Linked DNA regions of Homo sapiens: all the other regions are reported to be linked to region 2. The links are microRNA targets in miRTarBase. Many come from high-throughput screens and were not tested one by one. Region 2 holds a microRNA gene; each other region holds the end of a gene's coding sequence.

Region 1 (7,121 bases), not on the chromosome of region 2:
TACATAGATTTGCTGTTTACGTCCCCTTCTGCTTTTTCTGTTTTTCTTCTACCCGGAAGTGCTTGTTTAAAAAGGTTAGTCTTCTGCTAACAGTTTTAAACATACGTAGCTATTGTAGAGAGAGAACACAACTTTGGAAAATAAGGATATCTAGTGTATACCTCATAAATTCTTTTAGGACTCAATAAGTAGTTCAGATGGCAAGTGGATAGATACATAATTTAAAGGTTGATTTATGAAGTCACGTGTTTGTTATTTATTTTATTAACAGGAACTAAAATGTTAAATCATGTCTTAAACATCTGTGAAAAAGATGGTACTTTTGACAACATTTATCTGTAAGTAAAATAATATTTAATGTTCTTATCAAAGGGGTTTAATTGGCAGGAGAAATCTTTACTAGAAACTTTAAAATCTGGTCACTTATTGTGCCTTTGGAAACACTGTGGAAGTAGTTGTTACAAAGTATTCGAGTAGTTGTTAGTTTTGTTTAGTTTTGTTTTATTAATAATAGTAGATTAGGAACCTGAGATAGAACACATTGCTTTATTATATTAGGATGAGAGCACCAAAGTCACAGGGATGAAATCAGGATTAAAACTCAGGCCTTCAGAATTCAAGACTATTAATACTACTTTTCTCATGCAAAACCTTGTGTGTTTTGTTCAAGGCTATGTTGATAGCTTTGAACATTGTAGTAGATCATTTGTAGTAGAGTTTAATAATCAAAATCAGAGATTACCTAGCTGAGATTGTACTTGAATCTCAAGAGGCTGTAGATAAAGAGTTATGACTAAGATCACAGTCATGGATGTTCATAATTTAGTTTGGCCATGTGAGAGATTGAATTATACAGTGTTATTTTGGGAGTAATTGAGAAAGCTTGCGTTTTTAATTTTTAAAACATACCATGTATTTTATCAATCAGAAGGAAGATATATCTTCAAGCTTTGAGACCCTAGTTTTTTATTTTTCATCATTTTTTTTCTGTGTGTTAATAGGGCCTTTTAATAATTTATCCTCTTACAGTGAAAAAATTTTGATAGCTGTGGTACTTTTCCCTTTGTTGACTACAAGAATAAACACTGAGCCTTCTAATCTCAGCCAGCTGTCTTACAAATGTAAAAATTAGATTAAAAGTGTAAAATTGTCATCAAAAGGTTTTAGGTAAGCATGCCTAACCCTTGTTGATTACTGGTAGTTGTAAAGAGAATGTAACAGATGTTTGGAGCTATCTGTGGAGAATGCTTAAAACTTGATGAAACCTTAATTTTAATTTTTTTTCTGATACTCTCTTATATCTCAGGCATGTCCAGATCAGCAATGAGTCGGCAATTGACTTCTACAGGAAGTTTGGCTTTGAGATTATTGAGACAAAGAAGAACTACTATAAGAGGATAGAGCCCGCAGATGCTCATGTGCTGCAGAAAAACCTCAAAGTTCCTTCTGGTCAGAATGCAGATGTGCAAAAGACAGACAACTGAACAAATTACAAATGAACTTTCTTGCACTTGCTTGTCGCCAAATAAAAGAGAGGCCCATTGATTCCTCCCCCACCCCAACACTTTTCTTTTAAAGCTTTTCTCCCTCCTTGTTCTTGTTTTTCTTTCTTCCTTTCCTTTTCTCTGAGAGTTTTAATACTTTCAAGGACTTTAAAAAAATAATCATGTTTGAATTGTTTTCTCTTATTTTTGTGAGGTGGTTTGAAGGAAGGACAAGGTAGATCTGTTTAGTTTTGCAGTTGAAGTTAGATGGTCCTAAACATTTAATTGTCAAATAATTTCAAATTTAATGTCCTGCTTTCACATTGAAGGGCAGAGCCTACAAAACATTGTATATTTCAAAAGACAAAAAGAAGCAGCAGCAGTATCTTGTTCTCTAATTCATAGACAAGTTGAGTGTGTTTGTGGTACTTTGGGTTTTTAAACACTTTGGGATACTAATCCCTAGACATTGCCTTCACTCCACCTTTAGTCCTTCTGAGCACTCTCTCGGGAGTTGGAACATTGTTATCCTTGTAAGAAATACTAAGCTTATGTTGATTTTTAAGTAATTATATCTTCTCTTCTTGCTGGTGGGTGGGGCAGTTTGGTTTAGTGTTATACTTTGGTCTAAGTATTTGAGTTAAACTGCTTTTTTGCTAATGAGTGGGCTGGTTGTTAGCAGGTTTGTTTTTCCTGCTGTTGATTGTTACTAGTGGCATTAACTTTTAGAATTTGGGCTGGTGAGATTAATTTTTTTTAATATCCCAGCTAGAGATATGGCCTTTAACTGACCTAAAGAGGTGTGTTGTGATTTAATTTTTTCCCGTTCCTTTTTCTTCAGTAAACCCAACAATAGTCTAACCTTAAAAATTGAGTTGATGTCCTTATAGGTCACTACCCCTAAATAAACCTGAAGCAGGTGTTTTCTCTTGGACATACTAAAAAATACCTAAAAGGAAGCTTAGATGGGCTGTGACACAAAAAATTCAATTACTGTCATCTAATGCCAGCTGTTAAAAGTGTGGCCACTGAGCATTTGATTTTATAGGAAAAAATAGTATTTTTGAGAATAACATAGCTGTGCTATTGCACATCTGTTGGAGGACATCCCAGATTTGCTTATACTCAGTGCCTGTGATATTGAGTTTAAGGATTTGAGGCAGGGGTAATTATTAAACATATTGCTTCTATTCTTGGAAAAATAGAAGTGTAAAATGTTAATAATACAAATGTCACTGTGACCTCCTCCACTGAGAGGACTGGTTTATGCCAGATCATTTTCCGGCACACACGGAGTGGCTTTGACAGATTGATAACTTTGTAAGATGGGAGACATCTGAAATATTCATGTTTTCCTTTTGTAGTCCCATCTCCACTATTTAGAAATGTTCTCAGACTTTAAAATAATGCACAGGGCTTGAGCTTTCTGTCATTTGACTTTAAAAGGAAGTTTCATTCATATTTATCCTCTTATGTAAAATTGCGGTATAAAGTCTCATTTCCAAATATGTTAAATGACAAAATTATTTTATAAAATGTTTATGCACACTTTATAACCTTAAGTTTTTATTTGAGAATGTGAAAGTACAAAGTGCAGTAGACTTCAACAATCTTGAGTGCCAAGAATAATACAGAAAAAGAAGACAGTTGATGAATGAGTTTATAGGGTTCTAATCTTAAGATGGTAAAAATGTAGAAAGACCTTGCTGGTTTTTTGGGGGTATTCGTTTCTTAAACAATCCAAATCTAAGCTTAGAAGAAAAGTTTAGCGTTAAGCACCTTTATCTTCATGAATAAGCTTCAGCTTGCTCTTGGCAAGAGAAGAGTGCTTGAGTTACAGAAGGCATAAGTAGTTTGAAGAATGCAGCAGCCTTTTTGTAAACTTCCCAGATATCAAAATAGACTTTGATATATAAATGGTTTTCTGAGATGACACTGCCTCTATTTCTATAACCATTTCACCTGGACTATCTAATCAGTCCTATGAATGTATCCCTAAATGTGGTTATTGAAAACCTAATAGCTGCCTCATGACAAGTACATGTTATTTAAGGAGGAAAAAATATTAAATTTTGAATTGAGTGTGTAGGCTCCCTATCATTATATATAGAGTTTCTTTTTCCACGGTAGTCAGTGACTTAACCTGAATTGTAAATGTTTGTAAAGGGTTAATTGTCCTACATCAAACTTAGTTAAATAATTCCATCCACTTATGGAGGAGGAGGAGAATGTGGAAGAGGTAAAAAGCTGGGCACAAGTTCATATGCCTATGAGTCAGTAAAGACTGAAGTAATGTCCTATGTTGAGCTGGTTATTTTGATATATGATAATAATTATCTTTGAAGTAGAACAATTCTGTTAACTGGAAAATCACAGGATATATCCATCATATTTTTCAGGACAGATAGTTTTTACTGTGGGGCAAATAGGTTAAAATTACACTATGTTAGTTGCATTTAGGTTTTAAAGCAAAGAATCTGTAGAGAAATCTATGCAATATATAGTTTGTCCAGATTAGCTTTCATTTGGGGAATGAAGTTCTGAAATATCTAAAGCAGTTTACTCATCAATTGAAAAGTCCTCCAAAAAGAGAACTATTGGGAAACCATGGTGTGGTGGTGGAAAAGAAAAGCTCCCTCAGTTTTTTGGAGGGAATAACTTAAAAAAATACTTAAATGGCTAAGTTTACTTGGTGCAGTTAAGAATTAAACTTGTCAATTTTAACATTGCTGTTACATCTGAAATAAACTTATGTGATGTTCTGGTAGTGATCTGTGATATCTGTAAATGTCAAAACTGTATTGTTGAATTCTGCAGCCAGCAACCGTACATACTCATTGTGTAGTGTTTCCCTTACTGCTTTTATTTACTTTCACATTTAAGATCTAATTTTAAAATCATTAAAATAGGCCAAGTGTAATTAAGGCATCCTAATTCAGATCTTCTGTGACTTGCTAGGTACAGTGCCCAATATCTACAATTCAGTTCCAATGAGAGGGAAAAAGTAAGATCCAAGGAACTGTCTTGCTGCTGTATTTTTAATGTAATTATTAGAAATACTTGACACTTTAGGCTGCAATCTAGTTAGTAATGTTTATTGGCTACAGACAACATATTCAGGTGTTTTGTTTTTCTTCCTTGTAAGGAAGGAGTACGGTAGTTCAATGAGTTGGGAATTGGCTTTTAAGCTTTTTATCAAACATGAATTTAAGATTTTTTCTTTAACAGAATTCAGTATTTAATATTTCTAGTCAAAATTGTTATAATTAGATTTTTGCTTTTTTCATTTAAGAAGCAATGAGTGATCCTTGTCTAGTGTGTCTCAGTTATTACTGTAGTTTAAAACAACAAACAAGTATTACCTTCCACAGTTCTGGATCAGGAATCTAGGAGCTGCTTAACTGGGTGGTTCTGTCTTGAGATCTCAGAAGGTTGCAGTCAAGCTGTTAGCCAGGACTGTACCATCTTGAAGCTTGACAAGGCTAGAGGAGCCATTTCCAAGATGTCTTGCTTACGTGGCTCTTGGGCTTCTGTTCCTCACTGTGTGGGTATCACACACAGTGCCTGATGCTCACGTGGCTCTTGGGCTTCAGTTCCTTGGGCACCAGTTGCCTGGTGGACAACTGGTATGTGGCTTCCCCTAGAGCAGGTGATATAAGAAAGTGAGCAGAAACCATACTTTTTTATGACGTAGCCTCAGGTGACATTATTTCTGCCATATTCCATGAGTCACACAGACCAACCATTGAATCAGCTTGGTATAGTGTGGGAGGGGACTGCACAAGGATGTGAATACTGGGAGGTGGATATCATTGGGCCCTCTAGGAGACTGGCTATCACTGCTCAGAGAAGATGCTGGGCTTCGTTGACTCCCAAGGTCAGGGTAGTTTTGGTTAGGTTGTGTTTTATTAGTCTCTAAAAGGAGTAGTTTTCTAAATGAGGGTTATAAAGCACTGCACTTTACAGTTATTCGGGATATAAAAGAAATAGTGGGTCTAAAGGCTGTGCTCTTGTGGTTGGGTTTTCAGTGGGGAGGGGAGACTAGTCTGTCTCAGACTGATGCTGTTCTCACTGATTTGAATATTTCTGGGAAATTGGATACTACAGTCACAAATAGGAACAGTAAGCCTATAGAAGTTTTTCAGGGAGTAAATATTTTCTATGGCAGTGTCCTGAATTGGTTCTCCCTTGCAAGACTGAACTGTAGGAACTTAGTCCTAGTTTATGATACAGCCAAGTAACATAGTCACATGGGAAAAAGAGCTTGAGTCAGATTTCTTAATGTGTGTTGTTAACTTGGTAGAACATTGAGAATTATTTAAGTCAGAGAACGATCTGTTACTGGGGCAGAAATTCTCAACCTTTTCAGTTCTCCAAAATTTAAGATACTTGATTTCTTAGGTAAAATGTTTTTGTTTTTGTTTTGGAGACAGAGTCTCGCTCTGTCGCCCAGGCTGGAGTGCAGTGGCGCGATCTTGGCTCACTGCAAACTCCGCCTCCCAGATTCAAGCAATTCTGCCTGAGCCTCCCAAGTAGCTGCGACTAGAAAGCGCATGCCACCACGCCTGGCTAATTTTTTGTATTTTAGTAGAGATGGGGGTTTCACCGTGTTGCCCAGGCTGGTCTCAAACTCCTGAGCTTAGGCAATCCTCCTGGGGCAGCCTCCCAAAGTGCTAGGATTACAGGCGAGCCATGGCGCCTGGCCAGTAAAATGTTTTCTATCTAGAATGAATCAAGGTATTTTCCTTGCTCAGTAGCTTCTAGAATAAGAAAAAAATAGCAGCAAGATCTGATTCAGAAATAGTTGGGAGCAGAAAGTTAATATGAAGGAGTTGCTACTTGTTAACAGCCTAGAGTTGAGATCTAGAAGAATTATTACCTTTTTAAATTTGTGATGAAAGCTTAAATCCAGCATTTGGGAAGTTACTCTATTGGCTGAACTATTTTGGAGTTTGTAAGCTTTGTATTAGATATTCCTGATTTAACTGAAACTAATTTGCCACATAGCTTTAATTTCATCCCAGTTTTACTTGTTTTACTGTCCTCAAAAACTCAAGACATCTGAACTCAAAGGATCTAAGCAGTATAAATTAAAGCACATGTTGAATCACTGTAGCTTTCGTAGGACATCTGATTATAATGCTTTTCTTTGTTTCTTTGTCCATACTGAACTTGTCTAGTTTATCTTTGAGAAACATTTGCTAGTATCAAAAATCTTCTGTAAAGATTTGAACAATCTTGAATTCTCCTTGTCACTAGCCATCTCTTCCCCTAAAGTATAATAAAACTGTCAGGTACTATATGTGTAATTGCTTATGCAGGTGAAATTTGAATACACAAACAGTAAATCCCAGTTCTCTTAGTAAGATGAAGGCTTTGTTATAGCACCTTTAAAACAATTTTATAACATCCTTCATTCTTATCACTTTCCTAAGTAAGAAACGATCTTCCTTTAGTGGATATAAAAGTTGTACATTGTTTCTGCAGATTTACTGGGTGCCTACTATTCTGAACTCTAGGGATACAGCAGTGAGCAAGGCAAAAAATATCTGTGACTTCTTTAAATAAAGGTAAGTAAAATTCTAGTTTAAGCAGAATTCATGTCTAAGTGCAGGTCATCCTATTTACTAAAATGAA
Region 2 (7,121 bases):
AAGGTTGGGCGGGGCCGTAGGGGCGTGGTCAAATGCCAAGAGGTGCAGCCAACTTGGAGGCCTCGAAGGTATTCACATAAGGAATACGTGAAAATGGACGTAATCAGAATGCCTGGCGGGCCGGAGAAGGAGCGTTGGCGGGAGGTAGCAGTCAATTCTCAAGCAACTGAGTCAACTCAGGGACAGGGTTAGAAGGGAGGCTCAGAATGACAGGCGTGGTCAACTCCAGAGGCGGGGCCATACTGAAGATCTGGACAGAGTCAAAAACTAAGGCTATATAATTCTAGCAGTTTGGGAGGCGGAGGCGGGAATCATCGCTTGAGCTCAGGAGTTCGAGACCAGGCTGGGCAAAATAGCGAGCCCTCGTCTTTACTAAAAATGAAAATAAATTAGGCCTGGCGCGGTGGCTCACGCCTGTAATCCCAGCACTTCGGGAGGCCTAGGCGGGTGGATCACAAGGTCAAGAGATCGAGACCATCCTGGCCAACATGGTGAAACCCCCTGTCTATTAATAATACAAAAATGGGCGTGGTGGCGCGTGCCTGTAGTCCCAGCTACTCGGGAGGCTGAGGCAGGAGAATCACTTCAACCCGGGAGGCGGAGGTTGCAGTGAGCTGAGATCGCGCCACTGCACTCCAGCCTGCTGACAGAGCAAGACTCCGTTAAACAAACAAACAAAAAACAAAAAACAAAAAACAAAAAAAAAAAGAGAGAGAAAGAAAATAGCCGGGCGTGCTGGCCTTCGCTTGTAGACCCAGCTACTTGGGAGGCTGCGGCAGGAGGCTCACTTAAGCCTAGGAAATTCGAGGTTTCAGTGAGCCATGATCACGCCATTGCACTCCAGTTTGGTCGACAGAGCCACACCCTGTATCAAAAACAAAACAAAACAAAAATCACCCTAAGGCTGGAGTTATGGTGCAGTGGGCGTGGTCAGCGCTAGGAGGCCACGCAAGGGCAAGACCAAGGTCAAAAGCTGCACATTTCAACTCTGCTCAAACATAGCAAACACAAATACAGCGTTGTGTATACTCCAGGCACTTCCCAATAATTAACCAATTTCACCCTCGCAACTACCCCCGGGAGGTGTGAGTACTCTTATTTATTTATTTATTTTGAGACGGAGTCTTGTTCTCGTTGCCCAGGCTGGAGTGCAATGACACAATCTCAGCTCACTGTAACCTCTGCCTCCCGAGTTCGAATGATTTTCCTGCCTCAGCCTCCCAAGTAGCTGGGATTACAGGCGCCAGCCACCACGCCAGGCTAAGTTTTGTATTTTTAGTAGAGACGGGGTTTCACCACGTTGGCCAGGCTGGTCTTGAACTCCTGACCTCAGGTGATCTGCCCGCCTCGGCCTCCCAAAGTGCTGGGATTACAGGCATGAGCCACCGCGCCCGGCCGGGTACTCTTATTATCCCCATTTTTTAAATGAGGAAACCGAGGCAGAGGTTGGACGACCTGTGTACACTGCTAGGAATTAGCAGAACTGGGGTTTTAACTCAAGCAGGCGCGCTCCCGAGTCCATGTTCTCAACCACTCTCCCCCACCCACCCCGAAAGAACCTGGGATCGGGAGTCCACAGCCCGGGATGTGTGACCCGGTGGGACCCTCCGGCTCCAGGGGTGGCTGTGGAGGGCGGGGCAGGGGCGCGGCGGCCCGGGCGCCTCCCAGGGCCGGAAGCGGCAGAGCCGGTCCCGGCTCCACCCCCGGCCCCGAAGCTCCGCCACCCGCCGCCATGAGTAGCTTTGGAGCTGGGTGAGACCCTTTCGCAGACCACCCCCCATCTCCTCTCCGCGCTCCCGGGGCTTAGATCTCAGGTTTCACCCAACCCCTGGGACCCAGACCGGCGTGGGGACACGCCCCTTCCCTTAAACTCTCCCCGTTTCTCCCTCTGCTTGACGTTTGGTGTGCTGGGGGAACTGCGGGTGGGGGGCGCTGGGGAGCACCTTGCTGATTAGGAGGGAAGGGTCCTTGGTGACTCCCTTCTTCCAGGATCGCGTCCCTGCCACTTCGTGCTGTGTGATCTTTGGCGATCACTGCCTCTCTGGGCCTGTGTCTTAGGCTCTGCAAGATCAACCGAGCAAAGCACACGGCCTGCAGAGAGGCAGCGCTCTGCCCCTTACTCGGCCCCGTTTTCATCGGAGACCTCCGGGGAGCGGTGGGGGTGGAGGAATGGTTTCTCCCCTTTTCTGAACTGAATACTAAGACCCTTTTTTTTTCTTTGTCCTTTCCTGACAGCAAAACCAAAGAAGTTATCTTCAGTGTGGGTGAGTGGGGAGATGGGGAAGGGCTCGGTGGAAGCTTGCTTGTTGGGGTGACAGGCTGGAGCCAGAGGTCAGGAGTCTTGGCTACTGGGTCTTTGCCTCTCTGGCCTCAGTTTCCCTGCCTTTAAAAAAATAAATAAATAAAGCTGGAAGAGGAGAGGGAATAGGGATGGGGCTGGTGTCAGTGCCTGACCTCTGGGGGTGTCCTGGCAGAGGATGGCTCCGTGAAAATGTTCCTGAGGGGCCGCCCTGTGCCCATGATGATCCCAGACGAGCTGGCACCCACCTACAGCCTGGACACACGCTCGGAGCTGCCTTCTTGCCGGCTCAAGCTGGAGTGGGTGTATCCTTTTGCTGGAATCTCCTTGGTGCTCCCATCCCCCCAGGAGGAAATAGAAAGGCGGTCAAGGCAGCTCAGGCCTGTAATCTCAGCACTTTGGGAGGATCGTTTGAGGCCAAGAGTTTGAGACCTGCCTGGGCAACACACAAAACAAGCACAGCACGTTCAAGGGCTATGTGGCCAGAGTGGGATTGGTGCATTTGAGCAAAAAGAGTTGGGAATGGCTGGAAGCCCGGGCTCTGGAGTCTGACAGAGATGGGTTCAAACCCCAGTCCAGCCCGTACCTGGCCGTGTGACCCTGGAAAAGTCGTCTTGACTCTGAAAAATGAATTTTATGATCTCAGGTCCATAGACCTGTGAAATAATGTGTAAAGGTACTGAGCTCATAGTATGTGCCCCATGCACAGGGACTGATAAAACACTAACTCAGCACATTGGGAGGCCGAGGTGGGTGGATCACTTGAACCCAGGAGTTTGAAACCAGCCTGAGCAACATAGCAAGACCTCGTCTTTACAGGAAATAAAATAGCAGGCCGGGCGCGGTGGCTCATGCCTGTAATCTGAGCACTTTGGGAGGCCGAGGTGGGCAGATCACCTGAGGTCAGGAGTTTGAGACCAGCCTGACCAATATGATGAAATCCTGTCTCTACTAAAAATACAAAAATTAGCCGAGTGTGGTGGCATGTGCCTGTAAACCTAGCTACTCGGGAGACTGAGACAGGAGAATCGCTTGAACCCAGGAGGCAGAGGCTGCAGTGAGCCGAGATTGCCCCACTGCTTTCCGGCCTGGGCCACAAGAGTGAAACTCCGTCTCAAAAAAAAAAAAAAAAAAAAAAAAAAGAAAAGAAAAAGAAAAAAAAAATAGCCAGCCATGGTGGCATGCTCCTGTGGTTCCCAGCTACTCTGGAGGCTGAGGTGGGAGCATCACTTGAGCCTGGGAGGTCGAGGTTGCAGTGAGCCATGATTGTGCTATTGCACTCCAGCCTGGGCGACAGAGCGAGACTCCTTTCTCAAAAAAAAAAAAAAAAAAAAAAAAATCCAAAATAATAACTCAAGCACTTACTATCTGACAGACACTGTTGTAAGTTATTCCAGGTATGAATTTATTTTTTTACAACTAGTGGCCTCCAAGAGCTCTGAGGCCTACAGTTTGGAAATTATTATACCTCCTTTCCAGATAAGGAAACTGAGGTTATAGGTAGGAGACAACAATCCTGATTCTGGGACCCAAACTTTTTCCTAAAATCCTATTGAGCTTGGAGTCCACACCCCAGGAACCCGGTCCTTGTCTGCTTCTCTCTGGGCCTTGGTTTCCTCTTTGGAGGAGCCAGGGTGGTTGGTGAAATGGCCTGGCCTTCTGGGTGCCCAGAGCCTTCTCGAGGCAGCTGGAAATATCCCCTGGAATCTGTCCCAAATGTCCTGCCAGTAGGGCTTGATAAGCATCTGATGAGAGGTGGCTGAGACTGCAAAAGTGAGGACCTCAGATTGCTCCCCTTTGCAGTGACTGCAGGTCAGAGCAGTTTCATGGGGTCAGGATATATGTATATTGACAATCATTCAGATATTTTCTTGTTTTTGAGACACCCAGGCTAGAGTGCAGTGGCACGATCTTGGCTCACTGCAACCTCCACCTCCTGGGTTCAAGCCATTCTTCTGCCTCGGCCACTACAGTAGCTGGGTGGCATGGGCCACCATGCCTGGCTAATTTTTTTGTGTGTTTTTTAGTAGAGACAGGGTTTCGCCATGTTGGCCAGGCTGGTCTTGGACTCCTGACCTCAAGTGATCCACCTGCCTCGGCCTCCCAAAGTGCTGAGATTACAGGCGTGAGCCACCGTGCTTGGCCCATTCAAGATATTTTCTGAACATCTGAGACATAGGGCTGGGGACCCAGTGCTGACCATGACAGCATCTGCCTGCCCTCCTGGGGCATACAGTCTAGCATGGGAACAGACTCATTGAGAGTGACAACCCAGAGTGTGCAAGACTGGGATGGGGAATCCACAGGGACAGGGCTGACCCAGCCTGGAGTCATGGAGGGCTTCCTGGAGGAGGAGATACAGAAATGAAAAAAACAAAACAAACAAACAAAAAAAACAGCCCAATCTCAGCCACCATGGAACTCACAGTCTTATTGGGGAATATGAGCAGTTAACAAATAAACCAGATAACTATCAGCTTGGGCAACAAAGCGAGATCCCATCTCTACAGAAAATTTCTTTTTAATTAGCCAGGCAGGCTGGGTGCATTGGCTCATGCCTGTAATCCCAGCACTTTAGGAGGCCAAGACAAGTGGACTGCTTTAGCCCAGGAATTTGAGACCAGCCTGGGCAGCATGGCGAGACTGCATCTTTACCAAAAATATACAAAAAATTTGCTGGGCATGGTGGTGCATGCCTGTAGTCTCAGCTATTTGGGAAGCGGAGGCAGGAGGATCACTTAAGCCCAGGAGATTGAGGCTGCCTCTTCTGTCATTTATAAGGACACTTGTGATCGGATTTAGGGGCTACTCTGATAATCCAGGATGATCTCATCTTGAGATCTATAATTATATCTGCAAAGACCCATTTTCCTTGTAAGGTCACATTTGCAAGTTGTGGGGATTAAGAAACAGACATAGCCCGGGCGCGGTGGCTCATGCCTATAATCCCAGCACTTTGGGAGGCCGAGGTGGGCAGATCACCTGAGGTTGGGAGTTCAAGACCAGCGTGACCAACATGGAGAAACCCTTTCTCTACTAAAAATACAAAATTAGCCAGGCATGGTGGCGCATGCCTATAATCCCAGCTACTCAGGAGGCTGAGGCAGAAGAATCCCTTGAACCCGGGAGGTGGAGGTTGCCGTGAGCTGAGATCACACCATTGCACTCCAGCCTGGGCAACAAGAGCGAAACTCCATCTCAAAAAAAAAAAAAAAAAAAAAAAAAAGGAAACAGACATTCATTTTTTTTTGGAGTGGGAGGGGACCATCAGCCCACTACAGGGGTGAGAGTGGAAACAGAAAAACCTCATTCCAATGACCTTGTTGAGTCTGGTCCTCAGCCAGTGTGTGTGATGCAAAATACATTCCTCGGCTGGGCGCCAGCGGCTCAAACCTCTAATCCCAGCACTTTGGGAGACCAAGGTGGGTGGATCACCTGAGGTCAGGAGTTGGAGACCACCCTGACCAATATGGTGAAACCCCATCTCTACTAAAAATACAAAAATTAGCCTGGCATGATGGCATCTGCCTGTAGTCCCAGCTACTTGGGAGGCTGAGACAGGAAAATGGCTTGAACCCAGGAGGCGGAGGTTGCAGTGAGCTGGGATCATGCCACTGCACTCCAGCCTGGGTGACAGACTCTGTCTTAAAAAAACAAAACAGGCCGCGCGTGGTGGCTCACGCCTGTAATCCCAGCACTTTGGGAGGCTGAGGCGGGCGGATCATGAGGTCAGGAGATTGAGACCATCCTGGCCAACATGGTGAAATCCCATCTCTATTAAAAATACAAAAATTAGCTGGGTGTGGTGGCGTGTGTCTGTAATCCCAGATACTCAGGAGGCTGAGGCAGGGGAATCGTTTGAACCAGGGAGTCGGAGGTTGCAGTGAGCTGAGATTGCACCACTGCACTGCTGCCTGGAGACAGAGCGAGACTGCGTCTCAAAAAAAAGAAAAAATAAATAGGCTGGGTGCCGTGGCTCCCAGCACTTTGGGAGGGCGAGGCGGGTGGATCACAAGGTCAGGAGATCGAGACCATCCTGGCTAACATGGTGATACCCCGTCTCTACTAAAAATACAAAAAATAAGCCGGGCATGGTGGCGGGCGCCTGTAGTCCCAGCTACTCAGGAGGCTGAGGCAGGAGAATGGCATGAACCCAGGAGGCGGAGCTTGCAGTGAGCTGAGATCACGCCACTGCACTCCAGCCTGGGCGACAGAGTGAGACTCCATCTCAAAAAAATAAATAAATAAAAAAATTAAAAATAAATAAATAAATAAAAACAAAACAAACAAACAACAACAACAAAACACATTCCTTAACCAGCCCCTGGGTGGCTCCAGCTATGGCTACCGTGGCCGAGACTGCCGGGCCAACCTTTATTTGCTGCCCACCGGGGAGATAGTGTACTTTGTGGCCTCCGTAGCCGTGCTATACAGCGTGGAGGAGCAGAGGCAGCGACACTACCTGGGACACAACGATGACATCAAATGGTGAGATGTGGGACAGAGGGGACGGGAGGGAGCTGTGGCTGGAGATGGAGCTCCAGCCCCTGCCCCTCTATGCCTCTTTTCACATTGCTACCCTGTGGGGTTTGGGGCAAGGCTAAGCCTTTGCTCCCTCTCCAAAGCCACCAGCTGCCCTCAGGCTGAATTTAGTGGGAAAATGTGGATTGAGTATCAATATTTCAATATTTCAGGTGTTTTAGTTGGGTGTGGTGGTAAGCCCTTATGGTCCCAGCTACTCAGGAGGTTGAGGCGAGAGGATCACTTGAACCCAGGAGGTCGAGGCTGCAGTGACTGAGCCACCACACTCCAGCCTGGGTGA
Region 3 (7,121 bases), not on the chromosome of region 2:
AGCTTCCAATCTGGTGTAGAAGACAGATGTTAGACAAATAAATTAGATAATAAGATCATTTCAGAGAGTGGTATGTTCTGAGAGAGAATAAAATAGGGTTTGGGATGGGGGGTTGGGGGAAGGATAGCATTAGGAGATATATCTAATGTTACATGACGAGTTAATGGGTGCAGCACACCAACATGGCACATGTATACATATGTAACAAACCTGCACATTGCTCACATGTACCCTAGAACTTAAAAGTATAATAAAAAAAAAAGAAGAAAATAAAACAGGGTGGTGAACCTAGATGGTAACTGGGGAGGGAGCTAAAGTGAGGTAGAATTAGTACCCCCTAGGTACTAAGTACATTATAAGCATGAACTCACTTTATCTTGGGAACAACCCTCTGAGATAAGTTTGTCATTTCCATTTTAAAGATAAAGAAACCAAAGCGCAAAGAGATGATAAGTAATTTGTCCAAGATTTCACAAAGCTAGAAAGTCATGTAACTGGGTATCGAACCCGGGCATCTGACTGGAGACCATTCTCTTACCCAGCACTGAGGAATGAGATATATTAATTTAGCCCAACACCTAGCACAGAGTAAGTGCTACATAAATGGCCATTGTTGCTGTTGACATTACAGAGCTTCAATAGGCTGCCACGTCTTTCTGTTTTTCTCCAGGGACCAAAGCGGATGTTGGATGCTCAAGTGCAAACAGACCCAGTATCCATCGGACCAGTTGGCAAATCCAAGTAAACAAATCAGCACGGTTCCCACCAGGTTCTCCTGCCACCAAGATGTGTTCTCCTTACTCCATCTCCTCCCCAAACACGCTCCATGTATATATTCTTCTGATGGCCAGCAAATGAAATTCTGCCTAGAAATTAAGCCCGAGCTGTTGTATATTGAGGTGTATTATTTACGTCTCTGGTCCAGTCTTTTCTGGCAAATAACAGTAAAGATGGTTTAGCAGGTCACCTAGTTGGGTCAGAAGAGTCGATGATCACCAAGCAGGAAAGGGAGGGAATAGAGGAATGTGTTCGGGTTAAGTGATGAAAATGGCAGTGGTGGCCGGGCGTGGTGGCTCTCGCCTGTAATCTCAGCACTTTGGGAGGCCGAGGCAGGTGGATCACCTGAGGTCAGGAGTTCAAGACTAGCCTGGCCAACATCATGAAACCCCGTCTCTACTAAAAATACAAAAATTAGCCAGGCATGGTGGCACACACCTGTAGTCCCAGCTACTCGGGAGCCCAACGCACGAGAACCGCTTGTACCCAGGAGGTGGAGGTTGCAGTGAGCCGAAGTTGCACCATTGCACTCCACCCTGGGCGACAGAGCAAGATTCTATCAAAAAAAAAAAAAGGCAGTGGCAAGTAAGTTATAGAAGAGAAATGCTGCTAGAAGGAATTAAGCGTTGTAGTAAATGCGTGCTTATCCTCTAAGCTTGAAGAAGGGAGACGAAAATCCATTTGTTTAAATTCACATCTCAAGGAGGGAGAACCCGGGCTGTGTTGGGTGGTTGCCAATTTCCTAGAACGGAATGTGTGGGGTATAGAAAAAGGAATGAATAAGCGTTGTTTTTCAAATAGGGTCCTTGTAAGTTATTGATGAGAGGGAAAAGATTGACTGGGGAGGGCTTAAAATGATTTGGGAAAACAATTGCTTTTGAGGCTCAGTGACAACGGCAAAGATTACAACTTAAAAAAAAAAAATAAATAAAAAATAAAGGAAGTTGCACGGTTATTTTGCAACACAAGGGGGCGGCAAGGTCCCCATTTTTATCCTGTAATACTGTATCCCTAACAAAGATTTGGTCTCTGCTATCTTACATTATTAATGTTTCTCAGATGGCTGAGGGGCTCGCTTCATCTGTTCCGTCTGACACTTATCTCAAGTGTGTCTGTCATTCCTAATGTTCTCAGGATGTGCTCTGATAAAACCCTCCCCATAACCTCAGTTAATAAAAATTTACAGAAGACTTCTCAAATACCTGAGTTGTTTTTAATACCTGTACAAAGGAGTAAATAGGACCCTGAGTCTATTAAAATGTAATTCAAAGTAGCATATGATTGACTGACAGTCATGTAAACTGTATCTTTCTTTTTCTGATTTAATAAAAAATACATTTACTTCTAAAGTATCTTTTAATTTTCAACTTCAAAGCAGTCCCACTCTATATCTGAGATGACTCTAACTTCTACATTATAAAATCCATACTCTTTCTCCATTATCTTCTTTGGAAGATCATTCTCTCCCAGATCTTCCCGGATTTCCTTGTATATGGGCACACACACACACAAATGTGTGCAGTTGTATGTTTGCATGTACACACACATGCATGTATAGAATAGTGCTGTCTTAGGCCAGGTTGCTTGGAGCAGAGCCTGAGATGGGGATTTGGACGCATAGGATATACTGAGAGTGGGCTCCGAGGGAAAGGGAGTAAGAGAAAAAGAAGAGGGCAAGAAAAGAGTTGGGCAAGGGTTGGTTTCAACTGGAGCATGAATTGCACCACCCAGATAGTTTGACCTTGAGTCAAGGGAGCCAGCCTTTGAACCCTGGTAGGTGAATTCTGGGCTGCCCTGGGAGGTGGGGGGATGGGCAAGCGGCCCCCATTGAGCTGAGAAGCTGGGATGCCTAAGTAACTGGAGGATGAGTGCATTGACAGTGTCCACTACAGATACACACCTATATGTTCAGATACATATTTATACCCATATTTGCATATATATGCACATATTCATATATATAAATATATATCATGCAGGAATAGATCCATGCACTCACACAGTCATATTTACATACATGCAAATAAACACATGTAACTAACACAGATCCACACACACACATTGGCTCACACAAATCTATCTCATATGCAATTCATCACACATTGATCGGAGATAAACATTGAATATACTCTCCTGATGTGGATGGACCTCGACTCTAAGGACAAGTTTGCTGCTTAGGCAAATTACACCACGGCTTTGGCAAATAGGCATTTGGAAAATGTGTTCAGAAAAATATGGTATCACTCAAAACCCAAGCGTAAGTGAGGAGGGGATCCTGAGCTGCTGGGGCCTATTAGCTCCCAGCTTGGACAGGTCAAATTCGTGTTTCCAATAAAGACCAGAGGTCTTTTCCTTGCAGCTGGGTTAGTTTTTTCAAACCTCCTGACCATACCTCGAGATTACTCACACCTGTGCCTCACCCAGTTGAGAACTATCTCGTGCCGCTTAGTATCAGAATGCTTAACTTGGCATGAAGCAGGAAAACAGCACTTGGGGAAGCCATTGGTGGGAGGCCCATCACTGCCATCGTCAGAGCACGGGGTGATTCAAGGAAACCAGGCAGCTGCTATTCCTTTGTCTCCAAACACCGTGGGGGTTGTCTGCTGCAACCTTTGGTGAGCTCCTGAGCTGCAGTCCATTGAGGAAGGTGACAGTATCATTTGCAAGTTTCACCTCGCTGGGTACAGGGGCTTTTTGCCCAGATAAGAAATGCCCCTAGGCAGGAGGAAGAGAAACAGACTGAGTAGCCCAGGCCAGTTACTTAGCCAGTTACTAAGGCAGATGGAGCCCTCCCAAGCCCCCACTCAAACAAAACAAAACAAAATAAAACAAAAAAAAAGCCTCTTTGCTGAGAATCTCTCTGCAAAGCATGCCAACAGTTTTTATAACTGGTTTCCTATGCTCCTGGGCCAAAAAAGAGAATAGTCTTTTAATGAAATTGCTTTTTTTTAAAAAAGCAAGAAATGCCAGAGAGAAGTAAAGCGCATGACTTACTGGGAGAACTCTAAATTCAGTTATGGCTTAAGAAACAAGTTAATACTCCATTTTTGTGTTTGTGTGTGTGTGTGTGTGTTATTGTTGTTGAGATCCCATTTCCAATGCATTTACAATAAATACTAATGCCCACCCCTTATGCAGAACTAGAGTGAAAAAGAGCTGAAACTCACCAATAAACCCAAGAAAGCCTTTAGGACACAGATTCCCAGAAATGCCATCAGACAGAACAAGCAGTGGGGGAAATAAGCAAAGCAAAGGTGGCACACAGAAAAACATGATTAAAAGAGAAAGAAGAATTAAGACCTGGGGGAGGGAGCAAAAATGACTTTCTTATTATTATTATTTATTTACTTATTATTTATTTTTAGGTACACAGGGAAGTGTGTCTTCTCCCATGTCAAGAAGAAGTGGCCTTTCCAGGAATGGAGCTATTGAGCTGAAATGGCTGCCACTGCGCGTACACACACACACGCGCACACACACACACACACACACACCTCCCTTCCAGTTCCAGCTGACGGTGACTTTTTGACTGGTAACCATAAAAGAATTCATTCAAAAGGGCAGTTGTTCCCAGCAGCCAGTGAGGTCCTTCCTGCATTCGTTGTCTTGGAGAAGGAGGCACATAACAAAATAGAAACCAAAATGGGAAGGAAAAGAGAAAGAAAGTGAAATTCCTGGTCTTTGTTGTATGTATCCCCTTGCTTTTTAGATAAATTATCAGGGGTTTAAACACACACTCTCTCCCCTCCCTCCTCCCACTTCACACACACTAGATTGTTCTTGTCTGTTTGCAAACAGTCCAGAAGCACTGGGGTCTCATTAAATTAGATTCTAAGTGTCTTAAAGAATTAGATTTCAAGAAACCAAGAATCTGTGTCCTTTCCCTTCTCAGAGTGCCTGGAAGGGTGCAGATTTCTCCAATCTGAATCTGACAATGTTATTTCTTATGTCAGATAATCCCAAGTAGATCTTATACCTTAAAAAAATAAAATCAGCTACACTACCTACCTTACAGGGAAGGAAAAAGAACTAATTCCAATTATTAACTAACCCAAGATACAAACACAGGGGAAACTAGGGAATGTGCTTTGCAGCAATGTAAGATTATAGGGGTTGGTTTTAACCATCCTTTGAATGTCCCTCTTTAAGCCTTTTTAAAGGGCAATTTTGCACGGTGAGTAGAATTAGGCTTCTCCGTGGTCAAGATTTTGTTCACTCTATCAGTGCAAATTAAGTGGCACCGGCCCACTGGAAATTATAGTCTCCATTAGGAAGAAAAGAAATTACTTACCGAGCAGCAAATTCTCTAAATTTGTAATTCAGATCTTTAGTGCAGAATGCCGGTCAGGATCCAGCCCTTTGCATAAATTGGTTTTCTGGGGAGTTTAACCCCTTAGCCTCTGTTGCCCTTTTCTTGAATGGCATTCACGCAACCCTCTCCATCTCCTGGCCCTTTAACTGGCCCCGGCAGAAGTTGCAGTCCACAATTTCACAGAAGTAAGGATAATACATTATCACACATTACCGTTTATAAAGTGCTCTGGGTACAATCTGTAATTTAAAGCTGTATTTCCCTCACTGAACTTAAGTGCTTCCTTTGTTACATTTCATTACCGGGGGACTGGCATGCACCTGTATAGATTTTTTTTTTTTTTTTCATTTTTTGTTTTGTTTTGTTTTTCCAAATAAGCACTTCTTGACAAAATGGCCCCCAGCTGCACTTCTGCTAATGACAGCCATGGAAGGGCTGGTTCCTTACGTGATCTACTCTCTCAGAAGCTTGCTTTTGTCAAAATGCAGCCACGTGGGGGAGCTGCAGGACCTGGGGTTTTACAATGCCTAGCCCTTTTTCCCTGATTGCCTAACCGGGAAACTGGGCCAAAGCAGCCTGAGAGTGTATTTGTTGATTAACTTCTAGAAAGCAGTCAAGTTTAATTAGGAGAACTAGAACGAGAAAGCTGAACTGGGCAAGTCAGTTGCCTTCTATGATTCTCAGTCCTCCAAATGAAGATAAGGTTGGTTGGTTTGTGTTTCCATCCTTATCTGCTCTATCTTGGAAGAAGCTCAAGGAAGATTGTGTGATTGCAAAACGTTTCAGTTGGTGTCATTGCAATGCATTTAAGTAATCCTTACTGGCCCATCCTGCTCCACAAAGCAGCCTTACCTCTCATCTTCTCCACTCCCAACTAAAGAGCAAGTGATTTAAACTCTGAGTGTCCTCCCTCAACAATGGGCTAATAATAGAGCCTACTCGTGGAGTTGCTGCCAGCATGCAGTGAGATGGTGCATACCAAACATTTAGTGCAGTGGCTGGCACATTGTAAGCACTTAGGAAAGGCAAGCTATTCTATCATGGGGAACTTTTAGCACCAAGTAACAGAAAACCCCTACTTGAATTGGCAGATAATCGTAACAATAAGGGTATTTATCATTTCATATAATAGGTGTTGTATAACATCTTTGGCTTTGATTCTCTGAGACTCTCTTCCAGCTAACAACGATAATGAGGAAATGTATCGTTTCATATAACTGGTGTTAAGTCTCATAGCCTGGCTCTGGTTCTCTGACACTCCATTCTGCCATGTTCCATGGGTTGACTTCATCCTAAAACTGTGCTGAATGATGGATGCAGTTCCAGGCAAGGGGATTATGGGAATACCATAATCAGTTTCAATGAATCATTTTGGTGAAATCATGTTGAGAAGGCAATACAATGATACAGTAGACAGTAAAGCCATTATTGGTATCAGTGGCTTTAAGGCTAACCATTCCCCAAACTAACTGTGTCCCTTCAATTCACACCCATGGGATTTGTGTAATGACGGCCCCCACCTTCCAAAGCAGTGCCACTAGAATGTGAACTTATCAAGATCTGAACCTTCTTGTCTTGCTCATTCATTGTTCTATTGTCAGTGTCTAGCACAATGCCTGGACATGGTAGATACTCAACAAATATTGGTTGAATGGATAAATTGCTAAACAAATATCCTGTGGCCACACCCATTGTGGATTGCCTTATCCTCTAGTGTGAATTTGTTTTAGCTCTGAATGTCTGATCACCCTAACCAGACATCTACCCTTCCCAGGTAACCAGCCCAGTGGTTCTAAAAGTACAGTCCCAGGACCAGCAGCCTCAGCACCACCTGAGAACATGTTAGGAATGCAAACTCTCAAGCCCCACTCCATACCCGCAGAATCAAAAACTCTTGGGGTGGGACCCAGTAACCTGTGTTTTAGCAGCCTCTCAGGAGGTTCCAATGAAGGAGAAAATTTGAAAACCACTGGTCCAGGTAGAGCTACCACTTCACTGAGCATCAACAGCATGTTTGGTCCAAAGACTGGCC
Region 4 (7,121 bases), not on the chromosome of region 2:
CTGTGTGTTAGTTGGCACGGCTTAGGGATCTCTTGGTTATTGATGATTAGTAATGGGCTGTCGGGTATATCCCAGTTGATGAGTGGAGGGAGGTCTTTCATTAAAAGCTTGTATTTACACACTCTGCCTCAAAGGCATATTTAAGGATTTCTGCCACTTTTGGCTTTGCTTTAGAATGTAAAAAATACTTCATTTTCCAATCCTATTATCTGATGCCTATGATTAGAATATTGTGCTTCGTGTTATTCATAATGGTAGAAAGTGACATTTCTGGGGAAAAAAAAAAGTGTCACTAGGAGGTGTCCTTTCTGTTTTCCCAGCAAGCTTGTACCCTCCATGTGGGCAGAGGCCATATCTTTATCTCCATCCTTGAGCATGGGTACCTGGTGTGTTGAGACGCTTGGTAAATTGACTTCCTTGGTCCTAAAGAGAGGATAATTTTTCTTGACTATTGTCAGGAACTTCTTGGAGATTTGAGATCACTTCCAGACTGAGCCCAGTCTCCTGAGCACAGTTGTCTGGCTGCGGTGCTGTCCTCTAGGCTGGGGCAGAGGGAGAGTCGTGTCTCAAAAAGAAAACCTTTCCTTGACAGCTTCCGCAGAGCCCTGTATAACCAGCTTCAGCCGCTGTGGCTTGGGCCTCGGGTTGCTGGCGGCTGAATTCAGGTCGGCTTCTTCATTGGCCACTTGGGCTTTTTCCTTCCAGGCTGTTTCATGAACAGCTCAGCATTTACTGGGAAGGTGTGGACCAGATGGAAGATTTGATGTGGTCATTCATATGGGGATTATGTTGCAGTCTGGTTTCTTTGTCTAATCAACCCCAACTGTAGTGTCTTCTCTTCTGTTGCAGCACCTGTCTCTGAAAGCCAAAAGGGCCAAGGTCCAGGACCCGTGAGAGGAGCCCACAGCTACAGCTGCAGGGACTGCTGGCGTCCTCTCCTCCATGCTGCTGCCCCTGGTCCCAGGTGGGGTGAGCTGGCACCAGCTCCTGTGGAATGTTTGGTTGCTCTGAAGTGGGCTGCGGCCTGTTCATTAGTCCTTTCTTCCCGCTGCCCACAGCATTTGCATCCTTGCTGGGATCCTGGAGGACTTTGTGCATGGGCAGGCATCCTTCTGTGCTGCAGCGGGCAGAGTGGGAGTTGGCTCACTCAGCACGCTCACTAACCCAGCATGCCACTTCCAGCAGGCATGCAGTCCTGGCCCAGCTCTATGGGAAACAAGGAGGAAAGTTAGCCACTGAAGGCCAAAACACCATGTGGGGTGGACAGAGGGTTTGCTGGGCTGGCTTTGCTTTCCCTGCTGGGGCCACAGCTGTGTTAACCAATGAGGTCTGCTGCCAGGTGTGAACAAGCATGTCTCTACGAATGAACGAAACATTGGGGATCTCTGCCGAAACCACCAAAGGGCATGTCTGATGGGCACAGGGTCTCCCAAACCCAGTGGCTTCTGTCTGTCCTCAGCCCTTGTCCCTGTTTATCTGCAGCCAGGAGACTTGCAAGGGATTGGTGATTGACAGAGAGGACTCGTGCGCTGTTTTGTGTTAGCAGAGGATTTGTGTTTCACAGGTAGGCTTAGCGTCCTCTCAGAGTGTAGTGCCAGGTCCTGGTGCCACGCTAGCTGAGCACTCAGGAGAGTTCATCAGCTCAGATCCCACAGGGCCTCCTCTTTAGCAGGAATTCACAACAGTTTGGATGCCCTAAACTTCTGTAGCTCAGGAACATCACTGGTGTATTTGTTTTTTTGTTTGTTTGCTTGGGTTCTTGCAAGAGCGCGTGGGGACAGTTCTTCCAGCAGGCACTGGTTTTGTTGCCCCAGGGCTGCTTTGCTGTGATGATGATTGCATTTCAACACATGCCAGATGCAGATTTTTTCCCCCTTACTGTTTCAATGACCTTTATTTTAAAAACACATAGCTTGAAAATTTATTTTTATACTGATATTAGTTTGGATGTGCCACTTTTGGCACCAAACGTGTATGTCATTTTTATTTCCATTTTATAAACATGTAAATAATAGTGATAACTTGTTAATAATAGTAAACCTTTATACCTAAAGTAAATGTCTTCCCTCCCACACCTGGTTTTCGTGTCTGTATGTTAAGATGTTCTAATGAATTGTTCGAAGTGAGGGCCTGACATTAGCTAAGAAACTTAATGCTGTGGCATACAGCAGCTTTGGGATCTCAGGGACACAGGAAGCCCCCTAAAGCAAGATGATGTGACTGAATGACCTCAAGACCTGATTAGAGTAAACTGTGGGACATTTAAAAGAAGTCCCAAAGAGGTGCTAATTCTTGCCAGTTTCCAGTTGGGATCTTCCTGTAGAGAGGTCAGAAACATTATTTTTCAAGTTTGGCTTTAGGACTGGGGCTGATCCTAAAAAGCTTATATGGCGGTGGAAGGGGAAAGGTACAGGTTTCACACCCTCGGGTTGGAGACCAGAGTCCACTGGGAGCCCGGACAATCTGGAGGGAGCACCCAGAGGCAAGCCCGTCCCTGCATGCTGCCTCTACCCCTGGGCGCCTGATCCTGAGCACATGCTTCCCCTCTGTCCCTCCACCTCTCAGAAGGCAGCCCTCCCCAGGCGACACCCCCCAGTGTTGTGTCCTGTGTTATGTCACAGTCTGTGATGGGTGGGACAGGTCCTTGCTGTCCGAAGCAACTACAAAATCCTGGGCCCATGGGGAGGCCCCTTTACAGTAGGGTTGGTTAAGGCTGGGACCACACAACTCACCAGGGAGTGGGGCCCGGCCTGGGCGAGAGAGATGAGAGCTTTTGACTTTGTCTGTTGCAGGTCTGTGTCCCTGTTCCCATTGTCAGCCCACAGATGTGACAGCAGGGCCTAGTACCTCACAGACTGTCCCCCAGTACTTCCACAGAATTAGTCCCCTCGGGCTCCACACAGGTCTTCAGATACTGCTAGTAAAATTCCCCACAGCATTGCTGTGTCTTCCCTTTGGAGCAAGTGAGAGGGCAGAGAGAAGCTGGCGCTGGAAAGCATGGAGGCGGTGGTGCCCTGTAGGCCCAGAGATGGCAGCTTTCTGTGTTGGTGGCTTGCAGAGACCCTGCCAGTTTTCTGCCATAGCTGGCTTCCCCGGGGGTTGGACATTGTCGTCACAGGGAGCCCCTGGTTCAGCCAGTGCGCTGCTCAGTCCAGCCAGCAAATGTTGAGCCCTCAGGCCATGTGCATGGCACAGGGATGAGGCGGAGACACTTGACAACAAGTAACCAGATGAGTGGACCAGGATGGAGCTGGGCGCACGAGAAGGACAGGGTGGCAGGAGATGGCAGAGGTCCAGTAGGGGTTGTTAAGGCCAGGGCTGTATCCACAGAGACTTCCCCACGACAAGATGCTTTCCTGGTGAAAGGACAGACCGCTCTCATGTTCTTCCCTGGCCATCCCCACATTGCTGAGCATTTCATGTGGGCCATGAACTTGGAGAGCTGCCTAGTGCCCCAGCTCCATGCTCCCATCTCCACTGTTTTGTCCTGGTGTCAGCACAGCCTACTGCCAGTGCTGCTCCAGCTTCATGGGCTGGGCCCTGCCATTCAGTGCTGGGTTGTCCCCAGCACCCCAGCCCTGCCCTCAGCTCTGTTTTCCAGGGCCCGGCGCTGACAGTGTGGCTGACATTTCTCCTAGCCTGAGCAAGAATGTCTGCCGCTGACCAGACAGAGGGTTGGGTGGCTGGGGGAGGGAGGCGCAGGCCAAGGGGCCTAAATCTGGAAAACCGCAAGACTCCGTCCTGGAGCCACAAGACTGGATGTCTGGCAGTGAGGCCTGGGAAGCTGTAAGTTGTAAAAGCCCCATCTCGGGTGGTTCTGATGAAGTGGTGGGCTTGGGAATCCTGGGGACAGGAGTTGAAGATGTGAAGACATGCAGCCCAATGGACAGATAGCCCCCAGCGGGGAGATCAGAGCTTCGAGATCAGAGCGTCAGGTCTGAGTGAAAGCTGATAAATTGTTTCTTCACAAGTGTGCTTAGACCCCAGCCCAATTCCCCTTACGTGTTTCCCCAGAACACAGATCTGTGGGGTTGGGATTCTTCCCCAGGCAGGTTGTGGCAGCAGGCATCAATGTCAGCTCACTATGAATTTTCCTGAGTCTTGCAAAAATGAGGAATGTGTAGTAATGAGCATTTTATAAAGCTTAAGTTTATTCTCTATAAAAGACCATCCTTTAGTGTTTTTTATTTTTTATTTTTATTTTTTGAGTCAGAGTCTTGCTCTGTCACCCAGGCTAGAGTGCAGTGGCATGATCTCGGCTCACTGCAACCTCCGCTTCCCGGGTTCAAGCGATTCTCCTGCCTCAGTCTCCCAAGTAGCTGGGATTACAGGCACCTGCCACCACACCCAGCTAATTTTTGTATTTTCAGTGGAGACAGGGTTTCATTGTGTTGGCCAGGCTGGTCTCAAACTCCTGACCTCAAGTGATCTGCCTGCTTTGGCCTCCCAAAGTGCTGGGATTACAGGCATGAGCCACCTTGCCCGGCCATCCTTTAGTCTTTTCTTGGTGCTAAGATGCTTTTAGGAAACAATGGTGATAGTAGATGGTGGTTTTATTTTTTAATGTTTTCTTTGGAAAAATAAAATGTCAACAGTCGTTCATCTATCACCCAATTAAAAACCAATTCAAAATGATGAAACAAAAACTGATGTAATCCTCAAGTCTGGGAACTACTGGGTTGTGGCTGAGTGGGCCGGGCAGGGCATCTGGCAGCATCAGCACCAAGATCATCATTCTGGGAAGTGGATCTGAACTGCCAAGCACCCACCTGGGTTTCAAGTGAACTTTGGCGCCGCTGGAGGACATTTCTATCCCCTGGAAGAATTCGAGTTGGCAAGTCTCAGCCCCATATCCCTTTTTCACCTCAAGATAAGATCAGGTATTTTCCACTCTCCAATGATTCATCTGAATTTTCTCCTCAGCCTTCTAATTTGTGATGAAACAGGATGATGGAACTCTGGATTTCTTGTCAGTTTAATCTGTTTTTTTTTTTCTTTTTTTCTGAGTCATTGGAACTGGAAATAGCCAATCAAATAATTGCACAAACAGCTGGCTACTGTGGATGACCAGGTGGAATTTGCGTGGCAGACGGTCTGGAGAGGGCTTGTCCCTGGGTCCTCACAGTCATTGCTCCCTCCAGCAAGCAAGGATGACACGTTGACGTCTCTGGTGAATCCTGGCAGTGTTCCCTTTTGCACTCTTGGGTGGCATTGGACTTGCTGGAACAGGGCGTCTCCTTGCCTGCTTAAGTGCGGCCAAAGAGATTCCCAGCGCAGCGTTCCCCCAGGCCCTCTGGCACACATGGCCACCGCTCCCACTTGTGGGTTCTCCTGAAGGCAATGAGCAGGCTAGGGAGGCTGGGAGGTTCACAAGGGAGGGGTGGTGCAGGCACAGGATTTAATACCCCAGGATCTCCATAGCCAGGTGAACGACCAGCACAGGCTACTGCCCATGGCTTCTTGACCATGGCCTCATCAGTGGCTCCAAGTATGAACGTCCTAGCCAGGTTCTTTGCTGGCCTCAGCCTGATGGGCGGACCCATATAGGACCCAAAGGTCGCCTGAGTTCCTTTCTGCGTCCCCACCACTGCCATCAGCCTCTACATCGCCCTGGACCCCAGGAGAGCAGGAGCTGGCTGATAAGGCCTTACCAGCTCACCCTCAGGCTGTTTATTTTAGCCTCGTTCTCTGGTTGCTTTTCTTCCCCGCATTTTAGGCTTGTTCTGTTTTCAAGTGCGGTCTTCAGTTTGCTTGGTGTCTGCTGTCCCTGTGTTTTCCCTTTGCTGTTGTTTTTTTGTTTTTCCTCATGGGTATGCCTCACCCCTTTAATCTCCACCTCTCTGACCTCTGCATTATTTTCCTTTTTACTGCGAAGTTTTAAAAAGAATGCAGTCGTGTTTATTTTTAATGCTCTTCAAAAGTATTTTTTCCTCGACATTTATGTTAACGTCTTGGTCTTTTTTGTACTCTGCTTGTTTGTCTAACTATTATTTTGGACATTTGTTGTCGTGGTTCTATAAATATTTTCTTCTGTGATCTTCTTTTGTTTCTTTTTGTTTTGTTTTGATACAGAGTCTCGCTCTGTCACCCAGGCTGGAGTGCAGTGGTGCAATATGGGCTCACTGCTGCCTCGGCCTCCTGGGCTCAAGTGATCCTCCCATCTCAGCCTCCCCGGTAGCTAGTAAAGACGGGGTTTCTTAATGTTGCACAGGCTGGTCTCGAACTCCTGAGCTCTAGTGATCCACCTACCTCGGCCTCCCAAAGTGCTGGGATTACAGGTGTGAGCCACTGTGTCTGGCCTTTTCTGTGATTTTCATCTTCTACTTTAGTGTATTAGTTTAAAACTCAACAGTTGACTTCCCATTTTATTTTACTTCCTTTGCCCCCCTTCTCTTCATTTCTTTTTTTTTTTTTTTTTTTGAGACAGAGTCTCGCTCTGTTGCCCAGGCTGGAGTGCAGTGGCATGATCTGGGCTCACTGCAAGCTCCGCCTCCCGGGTTCACGCCATTCTCCTGCCTCAGCCTCCTGAGTAGCTGGGACTACAGGCACCCGCCACCGTGCCTGCCTAATGTTTTGTATTTTTTAGTAGAGATGGGGTTTCACCGTGGTCTTGATCTCCTGACCTCGTGATCCGCCCGCCTTGGCCTCCCAAAGTGCTGGGATTACAGGCGTGAGCCACCGCACCCGGCCTCTTCATTTCTTATTATGCTTAATTTGCTTTAGTGGTTGGCAAAAGGCCTACCTGTAGGTGTGGGAGCTGGGGGAAGGTATTCCAAACAAAGGATTAAATGTCAGGAATGTACAAGGAGCTCCTATAAATCACCAGTGAAAAGACAACTCCAGCAGAAAAAAATGGGCACAGGGAATGGAAGGCAATGTATAGGGGCAGACCCAACACTCCACCAAACCACTGAAGAGATATTCAAAGTTAGTCATCAGGAAAACACAAGCTAAAGCAACAATTAGACATCACTCTGCACCAATGAGATTAGCAACACAGTGGAAAGGTGGCGGATGGAGATGCGGCGGCCTCTGTGCGCAGCTGGTACGGCAGTCCTGGAGAGCCACCTGGGACTACTCATGTGTGTTCCTGCCCCACAGCCCAGAAACTCTGCTTCTGG

Evidence for each region. Region 2 holds the annotated microRNA hsa-miR-330-3p (GCAAAGCACACGGCCUGCAGAGA, at 2,078-2,100, shown strand). A microRNA usually pairs through its seed, bases 2 to 8, with sites in the 3' UTR of a target mRNA and lowers its output. Matches are read on the target gene's strand: a 7mer-m8 pairs with bases 2 to 8, a 7mer-A1 pairs with bases 2 to 7 and ends in A, and an 8mer does both.
Region 1: miRTarBase lists NAA50 as a target of hsa-miR-330-3p. Seed matches in the 3' UTR shown: 7mer-A1 at 2,783-2,789.
Region 3: miRTarBase lists BCAS1 as a target of hsa-miR-330-3p. The part of its 3' UTR that is shown has no 7-base or 8-base seed match.
Region 4: miRTarBase lists DHX35 as a target of hsa-miR-330-3p. Seed matches in the 3' UTR shown: 7mer-m8 at 1,818-1,824.

What each region holds. Positions count from the first base shown.
Region 1 is chr3:113,716,123-113,723,243 of GRCh38, reverse strand. NAA50 (N-alpha-acetyltransferase 50, NatE catalytic subunit) reads left to right here. Exons shown (of 5, transcript NM_025146.4): 4 at 272-338; 5 at 1,307-6,786. The coding sequence ends at 1,484. Among named protein-coding and RNA genes, the nearest start is that of USF3, 23 kb to the right of the region's middle.
Region 2 is chr19:45,633,988-45,641,108 of GRCh38, reverse strand. It overlaps MIR330 (microRNA 330), which reads left to right and starts at 2,022; the gene lies at 2,022-2,115. It overlaps EML2 (EMAP like 2), which reads left to right and starts at 1,712. Exons shown (of 19, transcript NM_012155.4): 1 at 1,712-1,752; 2 at 2,236-2,264; 3 at 2,475-2,604; 4 at 6,638-6,787. The coding sequence starts at 1,733. RefSeq lists silencers at 1,418-1,507, 1,528-1,807, 2,504-2,798 and enhancers at 1,183-2,034, 2,504-2,798, 2,035-2,886.
Region 3 is chr20:53,938,546-53,945,666 of GRCh38, reverse strand. It overlaps BCAS1 (brain enriched myelin associated protein 1), which reads left to right. Exons shown (of 13, transcript NM_001366298.2): 13 at 671-2,126. The coding sequence ends at 745. BCAS1-AS1 (BCAS1 antisense RNA 1) reads right to left here. Exons shown (of 5, transcript NR_199019.1): 3 at 5,069-5,235; 4 at 4,272-4,382; 5 at 2,086-3,492. Among named protein-coding and RNA genes, the nearest start is that of BCAS1-AS1, 27 kb to the right of the region's middle. RefSeq lists a silencer at 6,603-6,897.
Region 4 is chr20:39,037,650-39,044,770 of GRCh38, forward strand. It overlaps DHX35 (DEAH-box helicase 35), which reads left to right. Exons shown (of 22, transcript NM_021931.4): 22 at 850-2,072. The coding sequence ends at 894. Among named protein-coding and RNA genes, the nearest start is that of DHX35, 79 kb to the left of the region's middle. RefSeq lists a silencer at 4,963-5,163.